Homo sapiens: one gene and its partners. The protein of the gene in region 2 interacts with the protein of the main gene of each other region in a biochemical or structural test. Each region holds a gene or a part of one and is shown on either strand. Other genes may lie near its edges. The genes, in order: ABL1, STAT5B, PTPN1 and KIT.

Region 1 (4,811 bases), on a different chromosome or scaffold from region 2:
ACTGTGGGACACAGCCCCTTATTCCCAGAGCTCCTCATAGGCCTCTCGGCTAGCTGGCTGGCAGGAGAGCCACAGGTTTTGACCCTTTGCTTGGCCTTGTCATCGTTTTTATACTCACTAGAGAGTGATGTGGGTGGGTGGGGGGCTGCTGCCTTCAAGTAAACCAGTGCAGGGATGAAGAGGCCAGGGCCGTCCAGCTTTTTGTTCCCATCTTCAGGGAAAGAGACCAAAGCGTGTGTGTGGTTTTTTTTTTTTTTTGAGTTGGAGTCTCGCTTGTTGCCTACGCTGGAGTGCAGTGGCACGATCTCAGCTCACTGCAACCTCCGCCTCCCAGGTTCAAATGGTTCTCTTGCCTCAGCCTCCCAAGTAGCTAGGACTATAGGCACCCGCTACCACGCCTGGCTAATTTTGTATTTTTAGTAGAGACGGGGTTTCACCATGTTGGTTAGGCTGGTCTCAAACTCCTGACCTCAGGTGATCCACCCGCCTTGGCCTCCCAAAGTGCTGGGATTACAGGCATGAGCCACTGCACCCGGCCCAAAGCCTTTCCTAATGACAATCCTAACAGCAATGATGGCTTTATTGAGAGAAGCGTGACACGTGCTTCACCTTTACAACCTCATCTGCATTCTCACAACAGTGCTGTAGCCCGGCTGGGACTTGCCTGGCCTCAGGGATGGTGGCATCAGAGCCGGTTATCAGATCCAGGCCTGTCTGAGCCCAGACGCTTGGGTGCTCCTCTGGGGAGCATGGGGTGGGGGCAGCCCCCAGCTTGTGCCACGGGAGCCTGACCTTGTGATTCGCTGACCTCGGCCTCCTAAAGTGCTGGGATTACAGGTGTGAGCCACCACGCCCGGCCAACAGTTTTTTAATGGGCACTCTTTAAATATGAATCATAGCTCATAAGAAATCTTTCTGGTAGCCAGGCGCGGTGGCTCAAGCCTGTCATCCCAGCACTTTGGGAGGCTGAGGTGGGCGGATCATGAGGTCAAGAGATAGAGACCATCCTGGCCAACATGATGAAACCCCGTCTCTACTAAAAAATGCAAAAATTAGCTGGGTGTGGTGGCACACGCCTGTAGTCCCAGCTACTCAGGAGGATGAGGCAGGAGAATCGCTTGAACCCAGGAGGTGGAGGTTGCAGTGAGCTGGTATCATGCCATTGCACTCCAGCCTGGCAACAGAGTGAGACTCCATCTCAAAAAAAAAAGGAAATCTTTTTGGTGTTGCCAAGCTCCTGCTAGTGAGTAACAGAATTCTCCCTCAGAGGTCAGCTTGCAAGAAGAGGTTTTCTGTTGGCACCTGTAACTCAACAGAGGTACCAGTATGCATTTATCAGAACCCAAGGCAGCACGCGGGACATCTGAATCAGGGAACACCAAAGCCCTCCCAAAACTTTAATCTAGTGGAAGGAGGCCAGGAGAGTGAAATTGCAATGAATTATGCACCACTCAGTTTCAGCACTGAGCAGTTAATTGACACCCTCGGCTCACCAAGAGATCACTATCAAAATACCCCTCAGATGAAACTGACGGGCGTAAATGAACATGACTGCTGATCACTGGGTTCTTAATAAGCACAGCGTTCCCAGAGGCCTCTCCTCCCTACTGCTCAGCCACCTGAAATCAGGAAAACCGATAAGAGGAGGAAGGGTGGAAGATTCTGGAGAGTCTATACGCCATAACCTCCAAGTAGGTGAGTGAGATGGCCCAGCGGGGCGGGAAGTATTGCAAATTTGGACTTATTTAGCATGCAAGCCTTTTAAATGTGCGTTTTGGTACATAACATACGCACTCTACTCCTACAGTAGTGGACATACGTACTTTATATACCATATATATGGGCTGCATGTTCTGTTTTTTTTTGTTTTTTTTTTACTAATGAGAGTACGTGATAAAACTCAGGTTTATAGATTCTGCTGTCAGTAAACATCCCACCATAAATCTTCAAGAAGTAGGGCTTTGTCCAGTCCCTTCACATGTACCCAGTCTGCAGTCCATTAGAATGGAGTCCACCATTGCCATCCCCAGGATCCTCTGTGAACCCAGATGCTTGGCCTACCCCCCACCTCCAATATGGGTTGGCTGAGTCCCCACCCAAATCTCACCTTGAATTGTAATAAGCCCCACGTGTCAACGGTGGGGTCAGGTGGAGATCAATGAATCATGGGGAGGTTTCTCCCACATTCTCGTGGTAGTGAATAAGTCTCACGAGATCTGATGGTTTTATAAAGCGGACTTCCCCTGCACAAGCTCTCTTGCCTGCCGCCAAGTAAGATGTGACCTTGCTCCTCATTCACCTTCAGCCATGATTGTGAGGCCTCCCCAGCCATGTGGAACTGTGAGTCAGTGAAACCTCTTTCCTTTATAAATTACCCAGTCTTGGGTATACCTTTATTAGCAGCATGAAAACAGACTAATACACCCCTCAATGCTTTTGTTCAGCTGGTCTGCAGCAGAACCTGGACTGCTGGTTCTGGGGGTCAACCATGAACATAGAACAGAGCCTGGCCTGTAGTAGGCACACTACATAAATGTTGGCCATTATTATTTTTGCTAGTGTCTTGAGACCCCCTCCTGAGCTGATCCCAACTCCCTTGCTCGCCTAGGCAATGGCACCAGAAAGATGCTCTTCCCAGAGACCACCAGGACACGGGTTCTGTCCATGTGCGTGTCCTGGTTCCACCTGGCTGCAGCGAGCTTCTCACATCAGTGCCTTCACCGTGAGCTGCTTGTCACGCAGCCTGGTGCTTACTATTGTTGAATCTGCTCTGAGACAGCAACCACAGATGCCGCGGGTAATAGGTGGGAGATGGGCTAGCTCCTTGGCGGGCTTCAGAAGCACCTCTGCCTACAGGACTGAACTCACTGCTGGAGCCTATGCTCCTCGGGGACTCTCAGAGGGAGGGGATAGGAGGCAGGTGGGGAGAGGAGAACCTTCCTCCTTCCGAAGCTGAACCATTGACAAAGGCCATGGCTGCCCTTCTGTGCGGGCTCCATTCACAGCTTCCCGTTGGCCTATGATGGCCTGAATGTAGCCTCTGGCAGGGAAGGGAAGAGCAGTGGGGTTGGGGGAAGCGGGGGACTTACCGCTCTCTCCCTGGCCCTTGGAGTGAGGCATCTCAGGCACGTCAGTGGTGTCTCTGTGCTCTGCAGCTCTCCTGGAGGTCCTCGTCTTGGTGGGCAGCTCTGGGGCCTGCAGCAAGGTACTCACAGCCCCACGGACGCCTTGTTTCCCCAGCTCCTTTTCCACTTCTAAGAATCATACAGGGACAGAAACAAAAATCCAGCAGCCATCAGTACTGGTGTTGGCTTGGTGTGGTGGTTCTCTTTCTTTGTAAGGTAACAGTGCTCATCTGCATACAACTAAAGAAAAGGCACGTGGATACCGGAGAAACAGCCCTTAGCATTTCTTAGAACTCTGCAGGGCTGCAGCAGACAAGAAAGCACAATACTCCACACCTCTGCCCAGCTTTCTGGTCTCAGGACAGGCTGGTCTGTGAACTTTCACCAGGAAGTGAACCGAATGACCCAGGCTGCAGTCCCACATGGCTGCCCTTTCACCCCACTGCAGGTACCCCGGGATGGGTACTTTACCGTCTGAGATACTGGATTCCTGGAACATTGTTTCAAAGGCTTGGTGGATTTCAGCAAAGGAGGGCCGGTCAGAGGGATTCCACTGCCAACCTGGACAGATGAAACCCAAGTCAGATCATCCATGAGATCTGGCTAGCAATACGGGGCTAGCAGTTCTCAAGGAAAAGTCTAGAATGAAAGCAACATTCCAATCCTGCTAACCATCTTTTGCTGCAACAAGTCAAAACGATGAATGTCATCATGTCCTGTTATAGACATTAAGAATTTGAAAAGACGTTAGATGCTGGCAGGAATATGGATTGTAAAACCCCAGAGAGACAGTGACAGCAAGAACTGCATTTACAAATATATTTTTCCCAGTCCCGCTCTAGTAGGTGTAGAAAATTACTAAGCCAAACAGCTCACCTTCTATCTTGTTCTTTCTTCACGGTTATCAAAGTCTGAAGTAAAGAAATTCTCATGAAAATGAGACTAACATGAGGACTAAACAGACTGACAAAGCCTAGTACTGGGGACCAGGAACAGTCACTCCCATATGCGTCTGACTGGAGCATACAATGGCACAACCTTTTTTAACAGTTTGGTAAAATGTATCAAAATTTAAAACCCACACAGTTCTTGGAACCAACAGTTCAACTTTTAGAAATACCAGCCAAAGTGCCCAGAGATTCGTGTACATGAATATTTGTTTCTGCTTTGTTTATAAGGGCAAAAACCAAACAAATGTGTAAAACAACCAAATGCACATCAAAAGAGGACCGGATGAATGAGTGAAATGGAGTACTGGGCAGCTATACATAAATAAGAGGTAGGGAGAGGGAGAGATCTGAATATATGGACGTGGAAAGACATGTGTGGGAAAACAGTGTAAGAAATGGCCATATAAATACCTTATAAGATATATGAAAACATCCTGTGTGTGCATAGTACAGATAACACATATGTAATCAGTATAAAACGACCAGATAAAAATCACCTCGCAGCTGGGCGTGGTGGCTCACGCCTGTAATCGCAGCACTTTGGGAGGCCGAGGCAGGCAGATCACCTGAGGTTGGGAGTTGGAGACCAGCCTGACTAACATGGAGAAACCCCATCTCTACTAAAAATACAAAATTAGCCGGGCGTGGTGGTGCATGCCTGTAATCCCAGCTACTTGGGAGGCTGAGGCAGGAGAATCGCTTGAACCAGGGAGGTGGAGGTTGAAGTGAGCCAACA
Region 2 (6,283 bases):
TTTTTTTTTTTTTCTTTTAAGAGACAGGGTCTTACTCTGTTGCCCAGGCTGGAGTACAGTGATGTGATCATGACTCACTGTAACCTTGAACTCCCAGGGTCAAGTGATCATCCCACCTCACCCTCCAGAGTAGCTGGGACTACAGGCGCACACCATGAGCACCACCATGCCCACCTAATTAACTTATTTATTTATTTATTTACTTAGAGACAGGGTCTTACTATGTTGCCCAAGCTGGGCTTGAACTCCTGGCCTCAAGAGATCCTCCTGCCTGAGGCTCCCAAAGTGCTGGGATTACAGGCATGAGCCACCGCACCCAGCCAAAAGTTATTAAAAACTTTAATTCACAGAAAATGAACCAGCAAGCTACCCTTATTGTGAGGGTCAGAGGAGAGAACTAACTTTCCTGATGCCCTGGTGCAGTGGCTCAAGCCCGTAATCCCAATACTTTGGGAAGCCAAAGTGGGGGATTGTTTGAGCCCAGGAGTTCGAGACCAGCCTGGGCAACATACAAAAAATTTAAAAATTAGATGGGTGTGGTGGTGCACGTCTGTGGTCCCAGCTAATCGGGAGGCTAAGGGAGGAGGACTGCTTGAGGCCAGGAGGTCAAGGCTGCAGTGAGCCATGTTTGTGCCGCTGCACTCCAGCCCGGGCAAAAGAGTGAGACCCTGTTTCAAAAAAAGAAAAGAACTAACATCTTGGGTAGAAATGGTTGATGGCAATATCCATATGTTAATTAGGATAAAGGAATATTTTTACTACTGTAAGAACTCCAAATCATCAAATTCTTCACTGAAATAAGCTTTATGCAGAGTAGTACAATAAGGCAAACATTTTAAGAGGGAAGCAACTGAGATTCTGCACGGACTCTTGTATCATAGGTAGCCATGTCATGGTTAAATGTTCATGTGTAACCATGCTGCCATATACTTTCATGTATAACCAAATTAGCAATTGTGTTTCCCATAATAGTATTTTTCATAGGCTGCCTTATTATGAGTATGTCATGGCTATACATTTATGTTTCCCATAATTAGTACTGACCTCAACAAATAGTAAGTACCCACTAAATTATTTGTTAAAATAATTTTGTAACGAAAGCAGCTAACTTTGGACATAAGAAGGGAGGGGCACTCACGAGAATCAAACTTCCAAGCAATGGTGATGCCGCCAATTTCTGAGTCACTGAATCTCAGGAGGAAGGTCCCATCTGGCTTGTTAATGAGTAGGTCATGGGCCTGTTGCTTGTTTACAAACCCCAAAATGGCCCTGGATCACCAAGGACAAAGGACAGAAGCAGAGTGTGACTTACGATGCCAGAGAGAAGACCTTCAGACTCTGTCGGCGCCTTAAGAAATAATGATTCTCACCCATCATTCCAATGAGGCTTGAGATGTTTTTTTAACACTTCCATCACACCGTCAAACCATTGCCAGAAAGTGTAATTCCGTCCTGGTAAATTCTCCTGGTTGGAGATACAACAGTGAACATAAGAACACCAGAGTAACACTTGGAATATTATACACATATTTAATTGGAAAAATTAAATGGGAAACAAACATCTACCCTTGTCAGAGGCATACAAATATCCCCGCCTACCTGAGTTTTACCTAATGGCCCCATGGAGAGGAAAAGAGGGAAGAAGGGGAAAATACCAAACTGCAGTTACCAGCACCCAGTGGGCTCCTGCTACAGACACTTTCACCTGGGACTGGGCTGACCCGTCCCTTGCTAGTTTCGATGTGTGGTCTGTGACCAGAAGCATCAGTGTCACCTGGGAGCTTCTGAGAAATGCACGTTGTTAGGCTCCAAATTAAACATTTAAAACACCTTGGGGGTGGGGGGTGTAGGAAAAGAAACAAAAATTAAATTCAAATCAAGGTGATAGCCGGGCATGGTGGCTCACGTCTGTAATCCCAGCACTTTGGGAGGCTGAGGTAGGCAGATCACTTGAGGTCAGGAGTTTGAGACCATCCTGGCCAACATGGTGAAACCCCGTCTCTACTAAAAATACAAAAATTGGCTGGACATGGTGGCGGGTGCCTGTAATCCCGGCTACTCAGGAGGCTGAGACAGGAGAATCACTTGAATCTGGGAGACGGAGGTTGCAGTGAGCCCAGAATGTACCACTGCACTCCTTGTGACAGAGCGAGACACCATCTCAAAAATAAATAAATAAACAAAAATAAATAGGGTGGGCACAGTGGACTCACGCCTGTAATCCCAGCACTTTGGGAGGCCGAGGCGGGCAGATCACCTGAGGTCGGGAGTTCGAGACCAGCCTGACCAACATGGAGAAACCCCGTCTCCACTAAAAATACAAAATTGCGGGGCGTGGTGCCGCATGCCTGTAATCCCAGCTACTCGGGAGGCTGAGGCAGGAGAATCGCTTGAAACCAGGAGGCGGCGGTTGCGGTGAGCCAAGATCGTGCCATTGCAGTCCAGCCTGGGCAACAAGAGCGAAACTCTGTCTCAAAAAAAAAAAATGAATAAAAATAAAATCAAAGTGACGTCTGAATTAGCAGATGCTAGAGGAGGAGTTTCTTTCATCAGCATCCCTCTTTGTGGGTTGAGGGTCCCATAGGAGCCTGATCTGGCATTACACATGGGGAACATAAGAGAGTAAAGGGGAGAGAGGCCCAGAGTTCGCATCCCCTCAAAAGCTTTGCTTCTCATGAGCTATGTTAACATCTGCTTTGCTCTATTTCCTTTACAAAGGAAGAAAATGCATTAACTGTAGACAAAGGTCAACTTATTTAAAATATGCAAAGATGTAATTTTCTACACGTGACCTGGGTAACTCTCAAGTTGTCCATCTAGTCAGAAGCTTCTATTACTTTCGGTACATTTTATTAGAGACATGAAGAATAAGGGCCCAGGGCAGGGAGACTCCTGAGAGCATCTGGTTGGGAAGGACTGATCTAACAGCGGCTGGCAGCTGGGCTCCTCACCCTGTTGAACTGGGACCAGGACACAGACAGGCCACTGTAGTCCTCCAGGTGGCTGCTGCTGTTGTTGAACAGTTTCTGCGCCAGGAACACGAGGTTCTCCTTGGTCAGGCCCCGGTTGCTCTGCACTTCGGCCTTGAATTTCATGTTGAGCGCCTCACACAGCTGTGGCCACAGCACTTTGTCAGGCACGGCAAATGGCACCCTGCCCTGAGAGGGAGAGAGGCCAGAATCTGATGAGAAAACAGTTGCATGATTTATTCCCTCAAGCCACAAAAGAAAAACGCTGATGGCTGGGAGTGGTTACACACATTTGTCTTGCAGGGCCTGAGGATAAATTCAGACTCTGCTGGGGTACACGGTTCTGTGAAATTCAGAAGGTTCCGTTTCACCTTCTTTACACACAACTAGAAGGTAACCCATGCTATCCATGCTGTTTTGTAAATGAGCTGCTGAACTAACAGTCAAATCCTATGTTCTAACGGCCACAAACCAAAACATAACCAAGGTCTGGCTCTTAGATTGTAAACACCTTGGGAATTTAGAAATCTGAAAGACTGGTCCTCTAGGTACAAACAGAGAGAGTGTGCGTATGTGTGCACACGTGTCGGCATGTGTGTACACACGTGGAATCATTGCCCTCGACTCCTTCTGCCAAGAATTCTAGCTCAAAGTAAAACAACTTGGTATGGAAGAGTGGAAATTTTGAGTTGGATGGCTTTATTGAGAAATAGGTTAGAAGATTAACTTTTAATAAACTGCTTTTCAACCCGTTCAGCCATAGTACTCCATTTTATTTTGTTACAAACACTTTTTTCAATAGGTGATTTTCACATGATTTAAAATTCAAAAAGCACAGACGGCTACACAGTGAAGTCACTCCCTATCCCTGTCTCCCAGCAACCCAGTTCTTTTCTTTAAAGGCACCTAACACAGTTTCTTGTGTATCCCACCAAAGATATTCTATGCATGCCAGCAATGACATATACCTTTTCCTTTTCTTCACAAATGACAGCACAAAATCCACATGTTCTGCATCTTCCTCTTTTCACTTAATCCTCTATCTGGGAGACCTCCCATCAGCACATAAAGAAATTTCACCAGACCCCCATAGATGGGCATCAGTGTTACAGCCTCATCTTTAGCTATTACTAACAATGCTGCAATGTTCTTATGTTATTTGACCCACAGGACACATAGGCAAATATATATGGAGAATAAATTTCCACAATTATTTTTTTTTTTAGGTAAGGTCTCGCTCTGTCATCCAGGCTGGAGTACAGTGGCCCAATCTTGGCTCATTGCAACTTCTGCCTCCTTAGCTCAAGTAATTATCCTACCTCAGCCTCCCAAACAGCTGGGACTACAGGCGTGCACCACCATGCCTGGCTAATTTGTGTGTTTTTTGTAGAGACAGGGTTTTGCTATGTTGACAAGGCTGGCCTCAAATTCCTGGGCTCAAGAGATCCGCTTGCCTTGGCCTCCCAAAGTGCTGGGATTGCAGGCATAAACCACTGTGCCTGGCCACAAGTCTTTATTATTTATTTTTTATTTTTTATTTTTTTGAGACAGAGTCTCACTGTGTTGCCCAGGCTGGAGTGCAGTGGCACCATCTCAGGTCACTACAACCTCTGCCTCCCAGGTTCAAGCAATTCTCCTGCCTCAGCCTCCCGAGTAGCTGGGATCATAGGCACGCACCACCACGCCCAGCTAATTTTTGTATTTTTAGTAGAGATGAGAGTCTCACCATGTTGGCCAAGCTGGTCTCGAATTCCTGACCTCAAATGATCCACCCACCTCGGCCTCCCAAAGTGCTGGGATTACAGGTGTGAGCCACCGTGCCCAGCTGAAAGTCTTTTTTTTAACATAGCATAAGGTCGGCTGGGTGCAGTGGCTCATGCCTATAATCCCAGCACTTTGGGAGGCCGAGGTGGGTGGATCACTTGAGGTCAAGAATTCGAGACCAGCCTGGCCAACATGGTGAGACCTGGTCTCTACTAAAAATATAAAAAATTAATTGGGCGTGGTGGCATGCACCTGTAATCCCAGCTTCTCGGGAGGCTGAGGCAGGAGAATCGCTTGAATCCAGAAGGCAGAAGCTGCAGTGAGCCGAGATAATGCCACTGTACTCCAGCCTGGGTGACAGAGCAAGACTCTGTCTCAAAAAAATTAAAAAAAAAAAAATAGCATAAGATGTAAGTAGTCATTAACATAGCTGAGAATGTTAAAAATGCTTATTTATTTAGACAAGATACTTGAGTAATTACATGGTGCAGGAGATGCCAAAGGTACACAGAGAGTGAGATCTGTGGACAGGCAGGGAAGGAAACAAGAGATGTGGCAATCTTATCTAGGAGGCTTATCAGGACAAGAGGCAGACAGACAGTTTCAAAAAGGAGCTTCTGATTCAGAGTTTGTAAGTGAAGTATGGTAAATCTCTTAAAAATCTCACCTTTGCAGTAAAATACTTTTTCTCTAAAGAGGAGTGTTGGGAAACGTTAAGCCTCTCCACGTGAGCCAGAAGGTTCCATTTCACCTTCTTTACACACAACTGGAAGGTAACCCATGCTGTCCATGCTGTTTTGTAAATGAGCTGTTGAACTAACAGTCAAATCCTATATTCTAACAGCCACAAAACAAAACATAATCAAGGTTTGTTGGATATACTTAGAGAAGGACATGCTCTTATGTCCCAAATGATAACCCTTTTATCATGCTTTTATGGACTAATCTCTATTGGAAATATGTAACAAATGACCTTTGCCTACTAAAAAAATTTTTTTCTTTGAGACAGGGTGTCGCTTTGTCACCCAGGCTGGAGTACAGTGGCACAATCTTGGCTCACTGCAGCCTGGACCTCCTGGGCTCAGGCGATCCTCCCGCCTCAGCCCCCCCCAAGTAGCTGGGACTAGAGGCTGGTGTACCATGCCTGGCTAATTTTTTGGTATTTTTTGTAGAGACAGGATTTTGCTATGCTGCCTAGGCTAGTCTGGAGCTCAAGGGATCTGCCTGCCTTGGCCTCCTGGAGTGCTGGGATTATAGGCATGAGCCACCGCACCCAGCCTATGAGATCTTTAAAATGCTCATCGAGCAGCATGCTAGTGGGATTCAGATAGCGTTTGGGTGCATAAATCCACCAAATTATATCTTCCTTGAGGCAAAGTATCTCATTCTTCATGAGACCTAGAATGAATCACAGAAACTAAAATTTGGAAAAGACATTTAACAGCATCTTCATTTATTGAAAGGAAGAGGGTATGAAGCAACTTCTATGCTAAAGTAAGCCTCTGGAGAGATCTAACCTCTGGAGTGAACCTAGGAGTCCCAAATCCCAT
Region 3 (6,283 bases), on a different chromosome or scaffold from region 2:
CCCTCTTATTTTTGGCAAACATGCCTGTTATCTTTTGGGACCCTGGGCTTCCTGGAAACCAGTTATGCAGAAGATGATTGTGTGTGTTAGACTGGGGTCATCCAGATGGCTAGAGTTCTCACTGGTTCTGTTTAAGGATTGACTTTAGACACCTCAGTGTAGGCTGCACCATGGCGTAAGGGTTGGGATTGTTGTTTAGAAGGGGGAAGTAAGCAAGGTGAGTTTAATTGGCCATTGCAGAATCTCACCCGTATCTCCCTCCTGAAATCCTCACTAAAGCTGCCGTTTGCTTTCAGGTGCTTTCATGCACAAGACACTGCATTTTGTATCACAGGGTCCATATAATTCATTTTTCTCTCGTACTTAGTTCTCTGTGTTAAGAATTACTTACTTAGTTCTCTGTGTTAATAATTTTTGGCGAAACCAAATTACCCGTCACAGGGTTACTGTAGATGTCTTTCATAGGTTTTCCAAACACCACTTGCCCACTTGTTTGGGAAGGCCCCAAGGACTGTTTAACATCTGCCTTCATGGTGGAAACAGCAACTATGAGAGATGCTAGCATGTTGGCACTGCCATGTTCCTCTGGTACCAGCCCAAGATAGGACTCAATTTGAGGCCTGGTGAAGTACTGTGTTCTAATAAAAATCCATCTACTTTTCATGGCCGTATATATCAATGTAATAGGGTAACTGGAAATGTGATCTTGTGCCTTTTAAAAATTTTGTGTGTTTAAAACAAAAATTTCTATTGGAAATGACAGAGCATAGCTTGTTGCTGTAGACACCTGAGAGTCCTTAAAAATAAATATTGGGTTATTGACACTTAGTTGCATGACAGAATTCCTCACTTGTACAGTTCCAAAGTCTTAGTCTTTACCCAGATTACAGAGGGTTATTAAGCATTAGGTTTGGTTTTGAAAGTGAGTGCTTGCTGTCTGGAGGTGAGCTTTAAGACTCGTCTGCCCTGCTTATGAGATGAGGAAGGGTGGCCTCTTCCTCCTGCATTTCTGTTCTTCGCTTCCTTCTCTGTCTGCTCACTCTGTGGAATGCCCACCCCAGCACGGGTGGGGTGGAACCTGTCAGATCAGTCTCTTGTTTCTGGGGTCTTGAGGCATTATAAGATCTAGTTGTTAGAAGTGTGGGATTAATTCATCTTTTCACATTCTTCTAAGTTCCTGCTTTTAGCTGCCACACCCACTTTGGCTAAGTGGGGGTCTTGCCATGTAATTAGCGCCTCCATGCCAAGTGGCAGAATTGCTTCAATGGTGACAGATTGTCCCCATTCAAGAGTTCACTTTTGGCAACTCATCATTGATCCAGGAAGGTGACATGGATGAAACTGGCTAAGACTTCAGACAGGCTTGTGTCCAGACTCTTGAGAAAGCTCTGTTGGCTTCTGGTCTGGCACTGTGAAGTTTGCTGTGATGCTGGCACCACAACCTGGTGTTTCCTAATTTGTTTCTCCCACATTTTGCTTTGGTTTTGTCTTTTGGGCAGCTTCCAGCTCCAGTAGAGCAGGACCAATAGGCATTTGTGGTTCTATATTCACCCTCCTCACGTGCTTCCTGGCTCCTCATTGCCCCCAGATGATGCCACAGGTCCCTGGGCCTGCTGCCAGTCGTCTGTGATCTGGGCCTCTGCTGGCCCCTTCTCCAGCTGCTCTTTTCAGCCTCTTATTTGCAGTCACTGCCTAGGAAATCCTAGTCATCCTTCAAAACCTGCCTCTTGCACAGAGCTTTCTCTGATCTCTCTTTTCTGTAACCTTGGCTGACCTGAAACATTTCCCTCTTCTGAATTCCTGCTGCATGTCCGTAGCATTTCCCCCTCAGCCCTCCCCCATAGTCCACCTTGTCACTGCTGGGCACAGCAGTGTCTTCTGACAGACAGCTGGCCCTGAAGTGGTTCCCTTCACCCACACCATCCTTTGCCCCAGAGGAGGTATTGAGTGGGTCAGTGCACGTGAACTGCCAGTGTCATTTGCCAAAGAGCTGTTGACACACGCTGACATTTCTTTTGCTGAAAATCATAAGGGCTTTGAGCTTCCCTCTGTCCAGGCACATGGTCAGGCTGACCCGGTAGCTCTGCCCCTGCTGACCTGCCATTTTTGTCCACAACAGTTATCCATGAGCAGAAACATTTGTGTAACTGAGGCAGAAACTTAGTTCAAGTAAAATGTCACTAAATTCGAGTCAGTTTTTGTCTTAGACCCTAAATGAAACCAAATTTTCATAAATTTTCTTGTTTTAAAGAAAAATTTAATGAGCTACATTTAAACTGAGAACATCAGATAGTGTCTGAGATTATCAAAATAGAACATCAAAAGTATTTTTCTGAATGAACTGAACCAAACCAGAATGAAAGGGCAAGCCCTGGGGAGCCTGTCTCCAAGCCTTCTCTGAAAGGGAGTCTGTATTTGGTGATAACTGCTCAGCCTCTCCAAAGGGCCTCACCTGCTGTCTCTCCCAGTTTTATTTTTAATTGCCTGTGAGTTTTCTGTGCAGGGTAAGGCACCTACATTCTATGCCAGCAGCCTGATCAGGTCCTGGGTAATGTTTGAAATGGCTACACAGAGGAGTTTCAAAGCCTTTTGTTCAATCTGGCTTCACCTCGTAGACGGTGAGAAAGCGTCAGAGCCCTGCAGGATCCCGTTGCCACGTTTGACCGGGGAGCCGATGGGTTTGGAAGTCTGAGCCCTGTCTGCACAACCTGCCCCGGTCAGCAGCTTCGTGCCCCCACCCCCATCTCCCCATGAGGCAGGCATCTGTGCTGACCATGGCTTCCATGTTCAGAAACCCCCAGGCCTTTGAGTTATCATGAAGCTTGTGGGATGTGCTCCAAGCCTCCTGCCATAGAAAAACTGCCATATTGCTCACAATAATTCACTATTATTTGTTTCCCCAGTTAAAATGCGCACAATACTGGCCACAAAAAGAAGAAAAAGAGATGATCTTTGAAGACACAAATTTGAAATTAACATTGATCTCTGAAGATATCAAGTCATATTATACAGTGCGACAGCTAGAATTGGAAAACCTTACAGTGAGTATAGCACACACTTCAGCACTTCAGGCGGCTACTGGTTCACATGCCTCTTCCTTTATCCCTTGGGTGATATTACCTAATGTCAGTGTTCCTGGCTTTTGTATACCCCGAGCAAGATGTGGTTTGGGCACTGTGGTGAGCGGAGCTTACTTGTGTACCTACCAAGTGCCCAGGGAGGGTGGAGGCCACAGTGCTCTCTCTGACCTTTAACAACAGTTAACACCAGTTCTTAGGGAAAGGAGAGTTTCTTACCCAAAAGACTGGTTCCTGCTTGTGCAGCTGCAGAGGGACTGGAGCGGCAGCCTGCAAGTCCCAGTGAAGCATGCTGCCTTCTTTGTGGTCCTCAGTCTTCGAGTCTGAAGAGAGGGAAGAAGGGGTATAGGGGCTCACTCCAGTTTCATAGCTAGTGAAAGTTTTCTGGGCCAGGTCTTGGGTTTTTTTGTTGTGGGAAGAGTTTATAACACCAGCTACTTGCTTGGTAAAAGTTGGTCTTGGAACATGGCAAGGCATTGTGGCAAGCAGCACTGCCGCTGAACGCGCTGCTCCTGGGGCTTTGGAATAATTCCCCTGGATCCGTAACTTGGGGGTGTTCATGTCATTCTGGGGAACAGTGGAGGGAGTGCGCGGCAGCACCTGGGGGCACCAGTGAAGAGTGGCCAGCCACCAACCTCTAGAACCTAACTGGGGTCGAATCCTGGCCCCACCTTACTAGCTCATCACAGTGTCTCCGTTTCCTCTTCTGTCAAACTCAGGTTTTGCGAGGGTTCTGGGAGGTCCTATACGGGAAGGGTTAGCAGTTACCATGGGTGTGTAGCACGGGCTTTATCTGAAGGGAAGGTGGAGCCGTAGGGAGACCATGTGGAGTGGGGCTCCAGGGCTGTGTGGGTGGGGAGGGATCTGCTTCTGGGTTACCCCATGCCTCCCCTTCTCAAGTACTACTTTTTAATCATCATGGCTCCTGCCATTCATTTCATAGTTGATGTAAGCCAGGTGCGGTGGCTCACGTCTTTAATCCCAGCACTTGGGGAGGCTGAGGCCAGGAGGATCACTCGAGGCCAGGAGTTCAAGACCAGCTTGGGCAACATAGTGAGACCCCCGTCTCTACAAAAAAACAAAAACAGTTAGTCAGACATCGTGGTGCTCCCCTATAGTCCAGCTACTCAGGAGGCTGAGGCAGGAGGATTGCTTGTGCCCGGGAGTTCAAGGCTGCAGTGAGCTATGCTTGCACCACTGCACTCTAGCCTGGGTGACAGAGCAAGACCCTGTCTCAAAAATAAATAAATAAAAAAAATAGTAGAAGTAAGATCTAGAATGTAGCACAGGTTACCAGGACGTAGGCAAGGGGTTCGGGCTGCCTGGCTCTTGAGGATGGTAGCAGTGCAGCTGATGTGAGTGCTTTCTGCCCTCTGGTGGTGACCGCGCCGGAGTCACCAGCCCTGCCATAGCCCTGATGGGGCAGAGGGTTCTGAGTACGGTGGATGGAGGTGCTTTCTGGAAGATTCTCAGGAGTAACATGGGCAGTGTGTTGGAATGTGCTAGAGGATTTATGCAGTAGCCTTTTAAAAGAATGCTTTTTAGCATTTGCAAGCCTGACATTAAGAGTGACTTCTGGGAAACTATTTGCTTGTTGAGGGAAACTGAATTTCAACAGAGCAGAAGAGCTGTGCGCTTTTTGCTTGGCAGAGTGAATACAGCCAGCTCAGAGGTTTTGATGTTAGGATCTGTTTGCTCCAACAGACTTTGTTTTTAAAAGGCTTTTCTCAGCCATAGCTGTCTGTTCTAGCACAAGGCTGGAATGAGTTCCTTGTGAAAGAGGTGAGCAGGTGTGAGGGAGGGTGTCAGTGGGCGGTAACCCACACCTTCAAGGATTAAAGGAAAACTTGCATTTGGCATGCTTGCTTCTTATTCAATTTTAAAATACATTTTAACGGCCGGGCACGGTGGCTAACACCTGTAATCCCAGCACTTTGAGGGGCTGAGGTGGGTGGTTCACGAGGCCAGGGGTTCAAGACCAGCCTGGCCAAGATGGTGAAACCCCATCTCTACTAAAAATACAAAAAAAAAAAAAATTAGCCGGGCGTGGTGGCGGGCACCTGTAATCCCAGCTACTCGGGAGGCTGAGGCAGAGAATTGCTTGAACCCAGGAGGCGGAGGTTGCATTGAGCCGAGATCATGCCACTGCATTCCAGCCTGGGCGGCAGAGCAAGACTCTGTCTCAAAATAATAATAATAATTTTTTAAAAATACATTTTAAGTCCTTTTCTTCCCCACCTGCCTCCACCCACCAAATAGAAGAGGTATTTCTTCTTCTTTAATGTCATTAAGGTTATATGGATACCATTTTCTAGAGAGGAAAGAATGATGGAATTGCCTAGTGTGAGTCTAGCAATTATCCTAACATACACAAATTTCTCCTTGTTCTGTGCCAAGATACTGTATTTAATATTTAATGAACATTAAATATTATTTACTAGTGTATTTAATGGCTGAGGCAGGGTTAAATATGTATTATTTTCATCCCAGCAGAGTTGGGGGAGGTCCTAGTAACTATGCCATGAGCTCTGTGAGGGTGAGGTGGTGTCTTTGCCCCCGCCTCCCTGGCACAGTGACTGGCACATGATTGGCATAGTGTGGACATTCGTCAAGTGAAGGAAGGCATCATGAGCAGATCTCTGGCCTGAATCCTTCTGCCATCAGCTGCTCGCCAGGTGGCCCTGGCACTGGGCCACAGGGAAACTCTCCAGGCTGGTATGGTTCCTGTCTGTGGCTGTCTTCCCGGGCCCATGTTAGGAGACTTTCACTTCCAGAGCCCTTTCCCTCTCAGGGCCTTGCTTACCAAGTGACTGGTTCCCATTTACTAGGAGCTCTTAGGTCATTGAAGATGTTGCGTACTCCCCCCAGTGAGGGCTGCCTTTTGATCACAGCCGCCAGAAGCCTCAAGGAAGGAGCAGAGCTGGAAACAGACGCCAGGCCATTGCTTCTGTTCCTCTGGGGCAGACCCAGCCACGGAAGAGACATTCTGGGACAAGGGCTGGGGTCCACCTTTCAAACGTGTCTGCAGCAGGCTCTCAGCATGGACTCTCTGCCTCCAAACATCCACCTCCTCATCGGAAAATGGATGGGAGTGCCTGCCTGGAGCAGCTGGTGGGAGAGCGCAGCGCCAGCACGTAGGACACACTCGGTTCATGGGCTGATGCCGTTCGCATTGACTGCCTCTTCAGCTGGGTGTTGAGCCACAC
Region 4 (6,283 bases), on a different chromosome or scaffold from region 2:
CACAGAAAACTCATTGTTTCAGGTGGAACAAAACAAAGGAAGCCACTGGAGTTCCTTAAAGTCACTGTTATGTGTACCCAAAAAGGTGACATGGAAAGCCCCTGTTTCATACTGACCAAAACTCAGCCTGTTTCTGGGAAACTCCCATTTGTGATCATAAGGAAGTTGTGTTGGGTCTATGTAAACATAATTGTTTCCATTTATCTCCTCAACAACCTTCCACTGTACTTCATACATGGGTTTCTGTGGGGAGAAAGGGAAAAATAGATCACCTTTTAATAATTATTGTCTCAGTCATTAGAGCACTCTGGAGAGAGAACAAATAAATGGTTACCTGTAAATATTTGTAGGTCAGAATCATCACAATAATGCACATCATGCCAGCTACGATTACGAAACCAATCAGCAAAGGAGTGAACAGGGTGTGGGGATGGATTTGCTCTACAATGGAAGAGAAATGTGGAATCACAAACTTTGGCAGGATGGGATCTCTACCACAGCCACTCAGTCCCAAACTGACCCCACCTCCCAACTCACAGCCCATGGCAGGATGCAAAGCTATGTGAGTCTCAGAGCTTCACCTTGGTTACATTGTACTCTTGTTATTCAAATGAATCTTTAAAAATATAACTTGAAACCACAATACTGCAGAATAGAAGTTGAGATTTCTGTAGAAAAGGAATAATTTATGCTGTTTTTCAATGAAAAGCAACATCTGAATGCACTTTATACTTCAATCAAATTCCTGCCTTGTACAACTTTAAAAAAAAGAAGCTTCCTTTATGGACGGTTTATATTTTCTTCTTTAAGCTTTCCTGTATTTTCCAAATTTTCTACACTGAGCATGAATGTCTTTCACAACCAAAAAAAAAAAAAACATTTTTAAGGTATTCTTTTCGTTGCCCTGTCTGAAAAACATGGAAGATTCTTCCCCTCACTACTCAAAACCTGAGAAAACACGCCACTTTTTGGCACTAGTCTTTGCCGACTCAAAAAACGAAAACAACAAACAAACAAACAAAACCCCAAGAAGGCCTAAAAAGTAAGTGCCCAGTTTCTTTGTCTTCCCACTTTGTACCAATTCATCAGTTTGCCCAAAAGATCTTTTAACTTGTTAAGAGAGTTAGTCACACATGAATCAAATTTTAAATATTTTAAAGAAATAACTTGCTAACATGACTTCATAAAGGCAGTGTTAACTTTTGGATACAGTGTCTGGCAAAGTGTTAAAATAATTCATTTTAAATAACTGAAATTTTTAATTGAATTTAAATTTTAGATTGTTCTAATTCTGTTTGGGTGTAAGGTAAATATATTCCCCCATTTGCTTTCTCTAGCTCTTTTTAATGGAGACAATTGTAAATATACAACTAATAGAGACACACATACATATAAAATATATAAAGTAGCATGGTTAAAATTGCTCTGGTAAAAGCATATACTTAACAAGCTAGTACAAAATGAAACTTAGTGAGTTTGATGACAGTATGGTGTGATGCATGTATTACCAGAAATGACATGGTCAATGTTGGAATGAACTTAAAATCATGACTGATATGGTAGACAGAGCCTAAACATCCCCTTAAATTGGATTAAAAAGAAATATACCTTTGTTGTTACCTTTAAATGCAAAGTTAAAATAGGCAGAAGTCTTGCCCACATCGTTGTAAGCCTTACATTCAACCGTGCCATTGTGCTTGAATGCACTAGAATCTATAGAACTCTGAACCACTAGCTTTCCAAACGGTGGCCCAGATGAGTTTAGTGTCTGCACATCCACTGGCAGTACAGAAGCAGAGCATCTAAAGGGAAGAAAACAAAAGCCCTGGCTTACTCTAGGAAAATAAATAAATACATAAAACACTTGGGATGTGGCATACTTTTAAAACAAAGTTAGAGGTTCATAATCAACAGAAAATGTCCTTTTACAAGTGTCTAAGAATAAGCACTTTGGTGACCTAGTGAGTGAAAAAAGCACTGGGGAAGAGAAGGCAGAGGAGGCTTCGGAGTCAGATGCGGGTTTGAATCCTGATGAGTTTTTAACCCCCACCAACACTGAGTTTCTACGACTGTAAAACAGGGATAGTAATACCCATTGCAGAGGGTTACTGAAAGGATTGGAAAGGAATTCAATAAAATGGCAGGCATATATGCTGGTACACAGTAGATCCCTAAAATAAACAAGCTTCAAAAGGGTACACGAATGGTTGAAAAGAAATAGCATAGAGGAGGAAAGCATAAAAAATCTTCAAGGGGCCGGGCGCAGTAGCTCACACCTGTAATCTCAGCACTTTAGGAGGCCGAGGTGGGCAGATCACCTGAGGTCAGGAGTTCAAGACCAGACTGGCCAACATGGTGAAACCTCGTCTCTACTAAAAATACAAAAATTAGCTGGGCGTGGTGGCAGGCGCCTGTAATCCCAGCTACTCGGGAGGCTGAGGCAGGAGAATCACTTGAACCCTGGAGGCAGAGGTTGCAGTGAGCCAAGATCACTCCATTGCACTCCAGCCTGGGCAAGAGAGTGAGACTCGGTCTCAACAACAACAACAACAACAAAATCAAGGATGTAGACCAGAAAATAGTCAAAGTGAGGACTGAAGTTTGAGTTCTAAGCAGGAAGGCCTAGTTATACTGCAGGTGGCTGAGACCACCACTGCAAGGGATCCTTTTCATGAGCCAGACCCCGACTTCCCTATTCTAAACACCTAGCTATTCCCTGTTTCCTTTCTTAACACCTACATACATTCATTGTTTATTCCATCTATTATGTGTTTCTACCCACTAGAACAAGCTTATCCAACCTGCAGCCCACATGTGGCCCAGGACGGCTTTGAATGCGACCCAACACAAATTCATGAAGCTTAAAACATTATGAGATTTTTTTGCAATTTTTTTTTTTTTTAGCTCATCAGCTATCGTTAGTGTTACTATATTTTATGTGTGGCCTAAGACAGTCGTCTTCTTCCAGTGTAGCCCAGGGAAGCTAAAAGACTGAACACCCCTGCACTAGAACATAAACTCATAAAGGCAAAAAGACTTGGGTGTGTTCTGTCCATTAGAATAGTGTCTGGTACACACTTGCCACTCCCTGTGTATCTACTGAATGAATGCCTGTAACTACAGGGCTTGCTTCTGCTGTGGCCATTCCTCCCAGGGGCCTTGAACCCTACTTAGTATTCCCCAAAAGAAAACACTCTCCTAAACCCCAGCTGAAAACAGCAATCCGATGTAACCCCTTCCAACTTGTTGTGATAAAGAGGCTTATTCCATGAAAAATAAAATTTCTGCGACCATACTAACTATTCAATTGTGATGTTAACCTGGGCTTTTAAAGCCTGAGCATAAAATAGCAATTGATGGATAAAAACAGCTGTGGTGACCCCATTTTCGTCTTCAGGTAATGCAAAAGGGCAATTTAAGGCTTAAGTGTGGATGGTGAGGGGCAAGCAGCACAGTGCCAGATGTTCTCTGTTCAGGGGCTGGGCACATTATCAAGAAGAAACCCTTTTTAAAAGCGGTCGCTTGCAAATGCCATATGTATGTTGTAATTGTGCGATCATTACTTTTTGGTAACTTGGCAATTAACTACTGAGGTAATTTTTTCATGATAACTACAGTCACATTTCCCACACACATTACCTCCTGTGTATAGAATGGAAATCTAATTACTCTGTCCTGCAAAATTGCTTTATCTACCTGCAGGCTAGAAATTGCATGATAAATCCAGAAAGATAACACCAAAATAGAGAAGTCATTCAGTAATGATTTTTCAGCAAACAAAATTAATGTCTACCAAGAAAAATATAGCAATTATCCCTTCTAAAAAGCCACATGGCTAGAAAAAAAACAATAATCAAAACAAAGCTTTTTTAAAAAAAATCAGAAAACATATTTGAAATTCAAGTGAATTGCAGTCCTTCCCCTCTGCATTATAAGCAGTGCCAAAAATAATCATCTCACCTCTGCTCAGTTCCTGGACAAAAATACCAATCTATTGTGGGCTCTGGGAATCCTGCTGCCACACATTGGAGCATGCCATTCACGAGCCTGTCGTAAGTCAGGATTTCTGGTTTTGCTACAGGAAAACAGAAATGGCCATATGTCAGAGTGCTGGAAAACCTCAGCAACATTCACTTCACTCCCTCTCTAATCCCTACAACCTTCCTGAGGCTGCTGAGTAGCCTGAGGGAGCAAGTTCAAAGGGCAGAATCTGAACCAAGGAGTGGAAGGTACAAGGAGGCGGCTGTCAGGGTCCAACCCAGAAAGGCTTTCCCAGCCACAGTGGCCCAGCCCCAGAGGAGATGGCTGAGGCAGAGGTGGCAGGGCCAACTGCAGGGTTTCTGCTTTCAGGGAGTAGGGATCTGAAGACTGCTTCTAATCAAACTCTAGGACTCCAAAGTGTTCCACAGGTAAAAATCTACTTTAAAGGATTCCTGCCAATGGGATTTCAAGCAACTGTACCTGCCCTAGGAATTTCAAGTTATTGTGGGAACTGGAATGGATGAAATTAGGAGTTGTTAGAGGAAAAGATAAGCCCCACTCTTTTGCTCTTACATGAATTTTCTCCTTTTTGGGGGTGGAAGGGTGGTGCCGATTAAAAGCCGAATCACTCTATTTACAGGGAAGCTAGAACATAAAGAGTAAAATACAATATGGGCTTTACTTCAAATCTTTGTTTCAAATGCAAAATATGAACAGAAAACTAGAAAAGAAAACCAGCCTAAGATTTATATATTTATGTATATTATGAACGTGAATATATATATATAAATACATATATATAAATATATATACATATATATAAAAATATATATAAATATATATAAATACATATATATATATAAATATATATATAAATCTGAATATATTCACTGTAACAGCAGAAATGCTCTAATTTGGTATTTCTATGTAACTACAATAACCAGCTAACACTCAAGAATTTCTAATTTTTGAAGTTATTTACAAAGTGAAAGGAAGATGCACTTATACTCGGTGGTTCTGATGGCAATACATCTGAAGGATTCCAACCCTCTAAGAATAAATAAGCTCAACAGAAGCAACAGGATGGCAGGGATGCTGATATGCTCACCCTGTACTCTGAAGAATAGCATTGATTGTGCCAAGTCTAAGCACAGAATTACGGGAGCCCCATGCATAGTGGACACATCTGAATACCAGCTCTTACATTTCTCAGTTCTTTGAACTTGAGTAAGTTTCTACATCTCTCTAAATTTTTGTTCCCTCATGTGTAAAATGGGAATAATAACTGTGCCCCTCTCATAGGGATATTGAGACAATTAAATGAGATGGCACATACAGAGAGCTAAGAATGACTTATAGAAATGAAACAATTATTTATTATTATTATTGCTGGGCACGGTGGCTCAAGCCTATAATCCCAGCACTTTGGGAGGCTGAGGCTGAGGCAGTGGATCACCTGAGGTCAGGAGTTTGAGACTAGCCTGGGCAACACAGTGAAACCGCATCTCTACTAAAAACACAAAAATTAGCTGGGCACAGTGACATGCGCCTGTAGTCCCAGCTACTCGGTAGGCTGAGGCAGGAGGATGGCTTGAACCCAGGAGGCAGAGGTTGCAGTGAGCACCACTGCACTCCAGCCTGGGTGACAGAGTGGGACTCCATCTCAATAAAATTTATTATTACTATTAATACTGAGTTATTATTTTATAATCAGAATATCTACCTTTCTTGGATAACCAATTTCACTACAAATGAAGTGAACTGTATTTGCCACTCTAAATATTCTCCTCAATAATCTAAAAATTCCTTCTTTAGAATAGTCTGATAAGGTGTATATTTTAACCCAATGCGCAGGGAATTCAACATCAATTATATTGCAACTGATAGGGAAAATATATGCAGTGAGAAGGAAAGACTGACAGATCAGAAACTTAGGAAGTTTATTTCCCCAAAGGAAGGTAACACTGATAAATGACATCTTTGTAGAATAACCTCTCAGCACCTCACCTCCCTGGAGGCACCTCCCTGGAGTTGGCGGAGATCAGAGTATCCACATGCATGACACACCCACCTGTCACTCAACCTGGCCCTGCTGATGAGCAGGCCATTTGGCTAATATACACAAAAGAGAAACTCTCCAAAACAATCTCAAGGTAGGGGCATCCTTGAGAGTTTGGATCCAATGCCAGCTTTACAAATAGAGCAAGAAGACAAGCCATCGTCTTGCGAAAGCATCCATCTGGCAAGTTTCATTTAATTATCATGGGCAACTGTGTGATCAGGCTGAAAAGTAGGACACGAC

The links.
Region 1: the proteins of STAT5B (region 2) and ABL1 interact in a biophysical measurement, tested with the Homo sapiens proteins (one study listed by IntAct).
Region 3: the proteins of STAT5B (region 2) and PTPN1 form a complex in vitro, tested with the Homo sapiens proteins (one study listed by BioGRID and IntAct).
Region 4: of the proteins of STAT5B (region 2) and KIT, one has a biochemical effect on the other in vitro, tested with the Homo sapiens proteins (one study listed by BioGRID).

The regions. Positions count from the first base shown.
Region 1 is NC_000009.12:130,878,943-130,883,753, reverse strand, and holds part of ABL1 (tyrosine-protein kinase ABL1), read right to left. Parts: intron 3,687-4,811; coding exon 3,597-3,686; intron 3,255-3,596; coding exon 3,090-3,254; intron 1-3,089. UniProt on the Homo sapiens protein: Non-receptor tyrosine-protein kinase that plays a role in many key processes linked to cell growth and survival such as cytoskeleton remodeling in response to extracellular stimuli, cell motility and adhesion, receptor endocytosis, autophagy, DNA damage response and apoptosis.
Region 2 is NC_000017.11:42,209,033-42,215,315, forward strand, and holds part of STAT5B (signal transducer and activator of transcription 5B), read right to left. Parts: intron 5,571-6,283; coding exon of another isoform or gene 5,550-5,570; exon of another isoform or gene 5,500-5,549; intron 3,159-5,499; coding exon 2,952-3,158; intron 1,466-2,951; coding exon 1,371-1,465; intron 1,270-1,370; coding exon 1,139-1,269; intron 1-1,138. UniProt on the Homo sapiens protein: Carries out a dual function: signal transduction and activation of transcription. Mediates cellular responses to the cytokine KITLG/SCF and other growth factors. Binds to the GAS element and activates PRL-induced transcription.
Region 3 is NC_000020.11:50,571,614-50,577,896, forward strand, and holds part of PTPN1 (tyrosine-protein phosphatase non-receptor type 1), read left to right. Parts: intron 1-2,903; coding exon 2,904-3,041; intron 3,042-6,283. UniProt on the Homo sapiens protein: Tyrosine-protein phosphatase which acts as a regulator of endoplasmic reticulum unfolded protein response. Mediates dephosphorylation of EIF2AK3/PERK; inactivating the protein kinase activity of EIF2AK3/PERK.
Region 4 is NC_000004.12:54,721,376-54,727,658, reverse strand, and holds part of KIT (mast/stem cell growth factor receptor Kit isoform 1 precursor), read right to left. Parts: intron 4,076-6,283; coding exon 3,961-4,075; intron 1,803-3,960; coding exon 1,609-1,802; intron 442-1,608; coding exon 335-441; intron 244-334; coding exon 117-243; intron 1-116. UniProt on the Homo sapiens protein: Tyrosine-protein kinase that acts as a cell-surface receptor for the cytokine KITLG/SCF and plays an essential role in the regulation of cell survival and proliferation, hematopoiesis, stem cell maintenance, gametogenesis, mast cell development, migration and function, and in melanogenesis.